Linked DNA regions of Homo sapiens. The protein of the gene in region 1 purifies or fractionates together with the protein of each later gene. This does not show direct contact. Each region holds a gene or a part of one and is shown on either strand. Other genes may lie near its edges.

The links.
Region 2: the proteins of CLIP4 (region 1) and JAKMIP1 purify together in Homo sapiens (affinity purification with mass spectrometry; one large-scale study listed by BioGRID and IntAct). This does not show direct contact.

The regions. Positions count from the first base shown.
Region 1 is NC_000002.12:29,141,912-29,147,467, reverse strand, and holds part of CLIP4 (CAP-Gly domain-containing linker protein 4), read right to left. Parts: intron 3,760-5,556; coding exon 3,523-3,759; intron 2,237-3,522; coding exon 2,101-2,236; intron 1-2,100.
Region 2 is NC_000004.12:6,082,050-6,086,577, reverse strand, and holds part of JAKMIP1 (janus kinase and microtubule-interacting protein 1), read left to right. Parts: intron 1-948; coding exon 949-1,158; intron 1,159-1,612; coding exon 1,613-1,732; intron 1,733-4,528. UniProt on the Homo sapiens protein: Associates with microtubules and may play a role in the microtubule-dependent transport of the GABA-B receptor. May play a role in JAK1 signaling and regulate microtubule cytoskeleton rearrangements.

The sequences.
Region 1 (5,556 bases):
ATTGATAAAAGTCTTTAAGCCATAAAACTACATGTCCAAAAAACATTGCAAATGAGGTTCAAAGGCAAATGACAAGCTAGACAAAATATCCATAATAAATAAAGCTTAATATCATAAGTATGTATTTTAAAACTCATCCTTTTTTAAAAAAGACACACTAATATCCCAATTTTTACTGGGAAAATAATACAAACAGGCAATTGCCAAGAAACATAAAAAATACCTATACTACAACAAAACACTTTAAAAAGTGTTCTATTTCACCACAATAAGAGAAATACCAATTAAAATATAGAAATTTTCATCTGTCAAATTGGAAAAATTAAAGGAAATGGAGCTATTCAAAATCAAATTTTCAAACAATATGTAAAGATTTGGGGAAATTACACTAGGATATTAAATAAAAATGCAGAATTTTTACTTTCCTCTTGTTTTCAAATCTTATACAATCAGCATTTTTATAAACAAACAAAAAAAGTTTTAATAGACCAAAAAAATGAGATTCCATCCTAAGTGTGTGATGAAAGGAAACTAGTTAATTTTGATAAAAGCGTGATAGCCAACAGCTCTCATCTGTTGAGTGCTTACAGGGAATCATGCACTGTTCTAGGTGCTTTATACTTTTACCAACACATTTAATTCTTGCACTAGTCCTTATGATAGTGTCATCCCTATTTCACAGAAGACAACTGAGGCACAAGAAGAGAAAGACAGTCACATAGCTGGTAAGTAAAGAAATCGAATCACACAAAAGCAGTCAGACTCCAAAGTCCATCCGCTTCATCATCATCATCATACCACACCACCTCACCATCAGGCCACAAGATGAATACTACACAATCGTGGAAAACAATGTTCTAAAAGAATATTTCATTTCAAGGAAAAGTATTCACAACATAGTAAGTGACTACAAAATCAAATTGAAATCAATAGACAGGATAGGTGTGTGTGAGAGAGAGGAAGAATAAATTTACCTAAACATGTCAGAAAGAATTTACTTAAACATTTGTCAGAATTTACTTAAACATTTGTCAGAAAGAGAAAGAAACCTCGCAGAGTTTCAAAGAAACCTCAGGAATGCGGTCATAAAGTTGGCCTTGCTTGATTTTTCCAGTTTTCCAAGTTCTTCATGACCTCCAGAGCTCTGTACTTCCTTGATAACCAAGTCCCTCCCTTGGCCACAACACTACTAGGTGCAGGATTTGAGGGAGGTCTGCAGAGCTGGGCGTGCCCCTGGTCAGAGGCCTTCTCCCAATCACTATACTGCTGGCAGCAAGAATCAAGGGCAGCCCAACAGCTCACAGCCTACTAACGAAAAAACCCCTCTCATCACTGTCTCCCCACTAAAAGCCACCCAAGAGACCAGTCCCAAGAAAGACACTTTCCCAAAAACATCATTGAGACAATTCCATCAGATGCCCTCTTCACCAGTCACTACCAGACACCCTCCTAAACCTTTCCATCATGGCCTCTGAAATTCATGGTTGGCCAGGCACAGTGGCTCATGCCTGTAATCCCTGCACTTTGGGAGGCCAAGGTGGGCAGATAACCTGAGGTCAGGAGGTCGAGACCAGTCTGGCCAACATGGCGAAACCCTGTCTCTACTGAAAATACAACAATTATCCAGCCATGGTGGCAAATGCCTGTAATCCCAGCTACTCGGGAGGCTGAGGCAGGAGAATCGCTTGAACCTGGGAGGCAGAGGTTGCAGTGAGCCGAGATCGAGCCACTGCACTATAGCCTGGGCGACAGAGCAAGACTCCGTCTCAAACAAATAAATAAATAGTGGAAAGCTGCGCCTGATCTAATGCAAGGCTAACTCTTATACTGAAATCCTTTTCCCTTTCAAGTTTTTCAGGACTTTCCTCCTGGAAATGTCCCCTTTCTCTCCTGCAACCACCATTTCTCCCTCTCACGTCGCCTCTCGTCAGTGTAAATAAATATAACTATCTCCTATCTTTAAAAAGTCCTCCCTACATCCACATGCCCCTCATTTATCACATAAGAAATCAGGAGAAAAGTTTTATTTAACAACTGTAAAAGAGTAAAACTTGATTATTTTTAATTAATTCTTACCGAGTTAAATAATATCAACCTTACCATACTTGGGGGCACATTTAAAGTACTGGACTTTTCCAACACTTCCATTATTTTTTCCTTCTGGTTCATCCAGTTCAATGCCAGCCCACTGCCCACTTGCAAATTCAGTTGTTCCACAAAATCTTAATGTACCAACCTAAAGAAAATATAAACCAGAATAATTTTGGGGAATTATTAGTAATTCCAAGGGTCCTACTCTTGCAACTTTACTTCACCATGGGAGTTTTTAAAAATTCACTCTCTCAAAGTGAATTTTAAAAATTCGCTCTCTCAACATTACCTTTTTATGCTTGGTAATGTTCCTTGCTCTCACTTCAGAGCCAGGAACATTACCAAGGATGAAAAAGAACATTAAATAATAATAAGGGAGTCAATTTCCAAGAAGACATAAGAATCCTAATTAGCTGGATAGTAGCACACACCTGTAGTTCCAGCTACTACAGGGGCTGAGGCAGGAGGGTTGCTTGAGCCCAGGAGTTCGGGGCTACAGTGACCTATGACTGTGCCACTGCACTCCAGCCTAGGCATCAAAGTGAGACTCTTCTCAAAAAAAAAAAAAAAAAAAAAAAGGGATATAACTATGTTGGGAAACTCAATATCCAAGCAGGAATTCCCTGTTCCATTCTCCATACCAAGCTCCCTATTAACCTCAATATTAAGAAAAAACTGAAGGGACAGGGCTAGGGGAGGGATAGCATTAGGAGAAATACCTAATGTAGATGACGGGTTGATGGGTGCAGCAAATCACCATGGCACACGTATGCCTACGTAACAAACCTGCATGTTCTGTGCATGTATTCCAGAACTTAAAGTATAATAAAATAATTAAAAAAAGAAAAAACAAGAAAACCTCCCATATGAGATATTTTTAAAAAGCAACTGGCAATAAATGAATACAATATGGAAACAAAAGCTTGGGAGGAAAAAAGGTGTCTGGATGATGGGAGTAGGAGTCCTCTTTTCCACACAAATCCTTATCACCAGGTTACATAATATCTCAGACTGCCCTATTTGTGGGAACCCAAAGACAAACACCCATGAACAGCAAGGGTCTCCTGTGCTCCATTTCTATGGAGGAGCAGCAGTCAGAGAAGTACCACTGGGGAAAGAGGGGACTGCAAAGATAATCCTCCACCTTAGATCATCCCTTAGCTCATGCTTCTAAATTCACTCAAGAGTTCTACTCCACTCCACTCTTTATTCAAATAAAGATGTCTTCTTTATTAAGTTCAAGTAGTTTATATTCTTAAAGCATAACTTAACAGTAAATTCATATCTAAGTTTTACATTTTCCATTAAGCATCTTTCTACCTACATGTTGAACCTTTTTCAAAAACTCAAAACTCTGACCATACTGTGTCCTTGAACATAGGTCATGGACATAACAACCCTGGCTTCAGAGATTGCAGTTACTTACTGTACCTTCTGTCCTGCAATAACAACACGATCCCCCAACTTCAGGCCAAGTGACGTAAGCATTGCCTTGCCAGTGACATGATCATAATTTGGGAGCATGGCCTTTGAGATGTTACATGACAGAGGCACCGCATCTAGAAGCATCTGCTTGATTTCCTTAGCAGTGGCTGCGGCGTCAGCCATCTCTAACGGCATATCTACTGGGTCTGGAACAACATCAGCAGGGATCTGTCCTTTGTCATTCTACAAATAAAGATAAGAGAAAAATGTTCAACTCTTACTTAGAGCACTAGAAAGTCATATAAAATTTCTGTTGGAAGAACTTTACGTTAAATTCATTCATCATTTGTTTATTCAAAAACATTTCCTGAACGCCTACAATATGCAGACACCATTCTAGGTGCTAAAGATCCTACAGTGAAAAAAACACAAGCCCTGCCCTCAAGGAACATTACATTCTGGTGGGAGAGATAGACCATACAACATTAAACAAGTAAATTATATGTGGCATAATAAACAGTCATAAGTGGCCTGGAGGGAAAAAAAAAAAACAGGGAAGGGGAATAGGAAATGTGGAGACAGAGATGGTTGTAGGGGAAACTCTTTAGATTAAGTGGTCAGGGAGGCCTCACTGATGAGATGCATCTCCACAGAGATCCAAAGCAGACCAGGGAGGAGCTGTGCAGGTTCTCTGGCAGGGAAAAGCAAGGCGTCCATGTGGGGAGCGGTGCTCAGGTCCTAAACGGAGAGCATTCTGCCCGCAGAGGCATGAGAAAGCAAGCTTGGAAACAAAAGTCACAGGACTGACGCTTCCCAGCCCCAGATCCATGGTTCCAGAGCTGCCCTCTTGGCTCTGTGACCTCAGCCCCCTGCCCATTCATGGGGTAACTCAGATTTCAAAACTAGAAACTATGGTTTTGATACTACTAAAACCTGGGCTATAATCAAGAAAAAAGCTCTGTTTTCACTATGACAGAAAGACTGTATCCTGGGATTTGTCCTGTGACAAGATAAAATGGCCAATGACAACCCCACGGTCATTTGCATGGTATATGTATCATAAAAGCCCTATCATATGAATTATCTGTCATCTTACATTCCCTAACCAAAAACCTTAGACTTCATGAGAAATAATTTAGATTGTAATCTTCTTTTAATATAAAGAATAAAGATACTTTTGTTAACTGAGAAACTTTTTTCCCTTTCTTCACTGATACAATCTTCTTCAAATGATTCACATGGAAAAATGAACGAGGCTTTTAGAACACACTTAGTTTGCAATTGCTTCGCATTTTTTTGTTTTAAAATTCAAGTCAGGTTGGTCCTTAGTAGAAATATGGCAAGAAGATATGTTATTAGATGTCTAGGATGGTAATGGACTCTTCTAATCCCAGATTTCAAGAAAACATACAAAATACAATAAAGATATGTGTTACACTAATGTATACTCTCTAAAAAACAGAGAGAGAAAAATAGGGAAACATAAAAATTTTTAAAATACACCCAGGCTAAGTTGTAAGCTATGCTTACAGTGAATATTTTACTTTGGACTTTTGTTATATCCCCACTTTTTGGAACCTGTCACACACTTCTGTTAATTCCCATACAATTCAACAATCGAAACTTCTGTTAAAAAAAAAAAACCTAAATAATAGTAAGAATAATAAAATAACAATGACGATATCTTCCTAAGACAAGAAGGCTTATTCATGATCAATTGTGGAATTCCACTTTCTTCTAAAGTGGTGGCATACCACCAGACTGGACCTATAAAAGACGATTAAGGGAGTTCTACACATGGAAACAAAAGAATAAAACTTGCTACCACAAAAGCATACTTAAGCACATAGTCTATGTTCTTCATAAAGCAACTATACAATTGAGACTAGGAGGCAACTAGCTAACAACACGACAACAGGAACAAAACTTCACATTTCTATATTAACCCTGAAAAAGGTTAATAAAAGATGATTAAGAGAGTTCTAAACATGAAAACAAAAAAATAATACTTGCTGTCACAAAAGCATACATAAGCACATA
Region 2 (4,528 bases), on another chromosome or scaffold:
TGTGGTTCCTCACTGTCACCCGGCCCACTGTGTTGAGCCTGTGTCCTTTCTGACACTCCCCCATAGGAAGGCTGGACAAGACAGGGCTGGGGGTGAACTGAAGATTAAGTTCAGGTTTGTACGTGGAGAGGCTGTGGTCCCTCCGAGATCCAAGCAGAGGTGTCAGGCAGCCAGCTGGTTCTGTGATTGTGGAGCTCAGAGAGAAGCCAGGGCTGAGGCATGTGTTTAAGATCTGCTGCATATGTGGGGTTGATACCGTCGGGGAGGACCTGGCTGCCTGGGAGAGGATATAGAGTGAGAAGAGGCCCGAGCCTTGGAAACTCCAGGCTTCAATGAGAGCCAGAGCAAGACAGTCTATAAAGAAGATAGAAACCATGGGAAGTGGCCTTGGGGAGAGGGAGCAGGAGGTCGTGAGTCTGGGAGTGGGTGACGGAGTCAGGGCGGGAGGACAACGTTGTCCGGTGGGTTCGGTGGCCAGGAGAGCACTGGTGACCTTGGCAGGAGCTGTCTGGTGGTGAGGGTTGGGGAGTTGTGGCCAGGCAGGAGAGGGTCAATGACTGAGAGGGAGACATGGTCCTGGAGACGGAGAGAGAAGCCAGCTCTGCCAAGAAGCTGAGCTGCAGAGGCCTGGCTGGGGGCCGGCAGTGTTTTATTGTATCTCATTAAAGTGAGAGAGACAGGAGCATACACTGATGTCAGTATGCATGTCAGGTTGAATATGTATGTGCTTCAACCCTTAGCTCTGTCTCCTCTGTCTTGTGGGAGTGACGGGGAACAAGCCCTGGGCTGCGGGCTGTGCTTGCTCTGTGTCTGGAGTTTACTGAATTCAGTTGACCCAGGCCCGAGACACTGCTTTGACCTTTCCCTGGGCCGAAGGCCCCAATTTGGGGAGAGATTTCCTTGGTCATGAGCCCCTAGGGCTGACTGCTTATTCTTTCTCCTTTTCAGATGGATGAGATCAAAGGGAAAGACCGTGTGATTCTGGCCTTGGAGAAGGAACTTGGCGTGCAGGCTGGGCAGACCCAGAAGCTGCTTCTGCAGAAAGAGGCTTTGGATGAGCAGCTGGTTCAGGTCAAGGAGGCCGAGCGGCACCACAGTAGTCCAAAGAGAGAGCTCCCGCCCGGGATCGGGGACATGGTGGAGCTCATGGGCGTCCAGGTGAGGGGCAGCAGCTTGTGCCAGCCTCAGGCTGGTCCCCCACCCATTTAGGTGGCATTTTTCTGGTCAGCCACAGAGGACTCTGAGGTGGCATGTATTCACTCATTCATTCATTCACTCAGTATTGGAGGGGATGTTATAAGTTCTTTGTGCTGGACGCTGTGTGAGGTGCCGGTGCGTGGCGGCCTTTGTAAGAGATACGGGGTGGGAGGGGCCTGACCACAAGGGCCCCAGGGAGCCACGGAAGGGTTTGAAGTCTCAGTGGCCGTCTAGATGGAGTCTTCCGCAGGTGTGCAGTGGGCTTGGGTGTTCCCCACCTTGCTGTGTGGCATGTGGGCCCCTGAATAAGGATCTCACCCATTATGTCATGTGAATTTTCTAAGAAGGCTCCACACAACTTCTTCAAAGTACATTTACGTCTTGACTTTTTTTTTTTTTTTTTTTTTTTTTTTAGGATCAACATATGGACGAGCGAGATGTGAGGCGATTTCAACTAAAAATTGCTGAACTGAATTCAGTGATACGGAAGCTGGAAGACAGAAATACGCTGTTGGCAGATGAGAGGAATGAACTGGTAAGTAGCCCCAAGAGACAGGCGGTGCCTCATAGGGTGCAAGGAAGGGGCCCTGAGTCCCTGAAACATGCCCTGCACAGAAAGTTAATGCAGAAGCCTTCTGGTTCTCTGAACTTTCCTTCTTACTTCTTTTCGATTAAAAATCTAACACATGCTCATTGAAGAAATCTCTTACTGCCATTTGTTTTTGTAGGAACTTATCTTTAGCAAACAACTGGAGAACTTCCATGAGAAGCATGGAGAGGATGTTCATTGCAGTGTTGTTTATGTTAACAACCGAAACCGAAAAAAATCAACAATTAAAAAACCAAAAAACCCAATTGTTCAATACTAAAGCGTAGGGCAGAGTGATTATGGAATATTTATACAATGAATTCTAGACTGTCATTAAGATTGATGATGGAGACCCTCTTTAATTGAAATGGAAACGTGTTCATAGTAAATTAAATGAAAAATGCATTTTACAGAACAATAATACATTGTCATCATCTTGAATATTAGAAATTATTCTTTTTTTTTTTTTTTTTGAGATAAAGTTTCACTCTTGTCGCCCAGGCTGGAGTGCAATTGGCACCATCTTGGCTCACCGTAACCTTCACCTCCCGGGTTCAAGCGATTCTCCTGCCTCAGCCTCCCGAGTAGCTGGGATTACAGGCATGTGCCACCATGCCCGGCTAATTTTGTACATTTAGTAGAGGCAGGGTTTCTCCATGTTGGCCAGGCTGGTCTTGAACTCCTGACCTCAGGTGATCTGCCCGCCTCAGCCTCCCAAAGTGCTGGGATTACACACAAGAGCCACCACATCTGGCTAGAAGTTATTCTTTTAGGTGGTGTAATTATGGGTAATTTTAATTTGTGCTTATGTATTTACTTTTTTGCATAAAATTTTATATACTTGTAAACTAAAACTTATACATTAATTTTAAAAATAATGAACATGGACTTCTGGTTAAAAAAGAAATCTCCAGTAAAAATAGAAATTTCATGAATATGTTTACATTTTCTGGATAACAGCAAAACTAATTTTTATGTAATGGCAGTTGATACATCAACTTCTTGACAGATGCCTCATAATTTTTATGTTTATTCTAATTTTTATTATGAAGAGAAGTATATCCACAGAATATTTGAAAAAAATGAGTGGTGAAAAGTGTCCGTAAGTATCACCTCTTCACAACTTTAATAGGATCAAAATAAATTTACTTCCTTCCAGTATTTTTAAATGTTTTTTTTTTTTTGGCTTTAATCAGACTGTACATCTAATATTATGTCTCTACTCTTCATTTAAATATTTATAAGCTCATAAATACTCATGAGCTGCATAGTTTACTGAGTGGATTAGGAAAAAACACAGGCTTCTGGAAACATGTCAGATCAGACTGAAGTAGTTAAAAGTAGAAACTAATAAGTTTGCCAACGCTTCAATCTTTTTTTTTTTTTTTTGAGGTGGAGTCTTGCTCTGTCGCCCAGGTTTGAGTGAGGTGATGTGATCTCAGCTCACTGCAACCTCTGCCTCCCGGGTTCAAGTGATTCTCCTGCCTCAGCCTCCCAAGTAGCTAGGATTACAGGCACCCGCCAACACACCCGGCTAATTTTTGTATTTTTAGTAGAGATGGGGTTTCACCATGTTGGCCAGGCTGGTCTTGAACTCCTGACCTCAAGTGATCTGCCTGCCTCAGCTTCCCAAAGTGCTGGGATTACAGGCGTGAGCCACCGCGCCTGGCCTCAATCTTAAAATCATGAGGTAACTACTGCTAGTTTGGAGTGGTTCTTAAATGTTCTTAATGTTTAAATAAATACCTTAAAACTCACCGAGAGACTTTGTTTTATTTTATGGATATGAATTGGGATTTTTTTCCCTGCTGTGTATTGTTCTGCAACTTGCTTTTTTCACCTCATTGATCAATTACATCACTCCCCATCAGTGCTTAGAGATCTGTCTTTGTCTTTTTACCAGCGGCTTGGTAGTCCATTGTGTGGATATACCATGGTCTGTTCACCTCTCTTCCCAGTGGTGGATCTTTAGGCTGTTGCCGCTTTCTGGATTTCTGTGAGGTGCCACATGCCTGTAATCTCAGCACTTTGGGAAGCCAACGTGGGAAGATTCCTTGAGCTCAGGAGTTCCAGCCCAGCTTGGGCAGCATGGCAAAACCCCATCTCTAAAAATACAAAAAAATTAGCTGGGTGCAGTGGTGCACACCTGTAGTTCCAGCTACTTGGGAGGCTGAGGTGGGAGATCACTTGAGGCCAGGACGTCAAGGCTGCAGTGAGCTGAAATCACGCCACGGCACTCAAGCCTGGGTGACGAAGTGAGACCCTTTGTCAAAGTGACACATGTCATTTTACCTACCTTCTGTCTCGAAAAAAAAAAATGCCATGAAGAAGATACATATGGGTCTTTACTGACTTTACATAAAGGTTCAAGTCAGTAAAGACACGTATGTATCTTCTACATGGCATTTTTTTGGGGGGGCGGTAGGTTTCTAGAAGTAGAATGCATGGGTCACATGGTACATTTTATATTTCAACCTATACCATCAGAATATTTTACCTTAACATTTACAGCCTGGGGAGTAAACGCAGGGGTCTAGAGTCAGTCCCTTGTGTTTGAATCTTGGTGAACTCAAACCACCAATCTTTGCAAAAGTGCAAAGCATTCTTGGCACTTTCTTTGTGAAGTTGGGCCCATTGCCTCCTCTCTTTGGGCTCAGGTTCTTTGTCTATAAAATGCGGATGGGGAAGGTGGCCCCTTCACATGTGTTGGCTGTGCCTGTGGTTATCATGATATTGATAGAT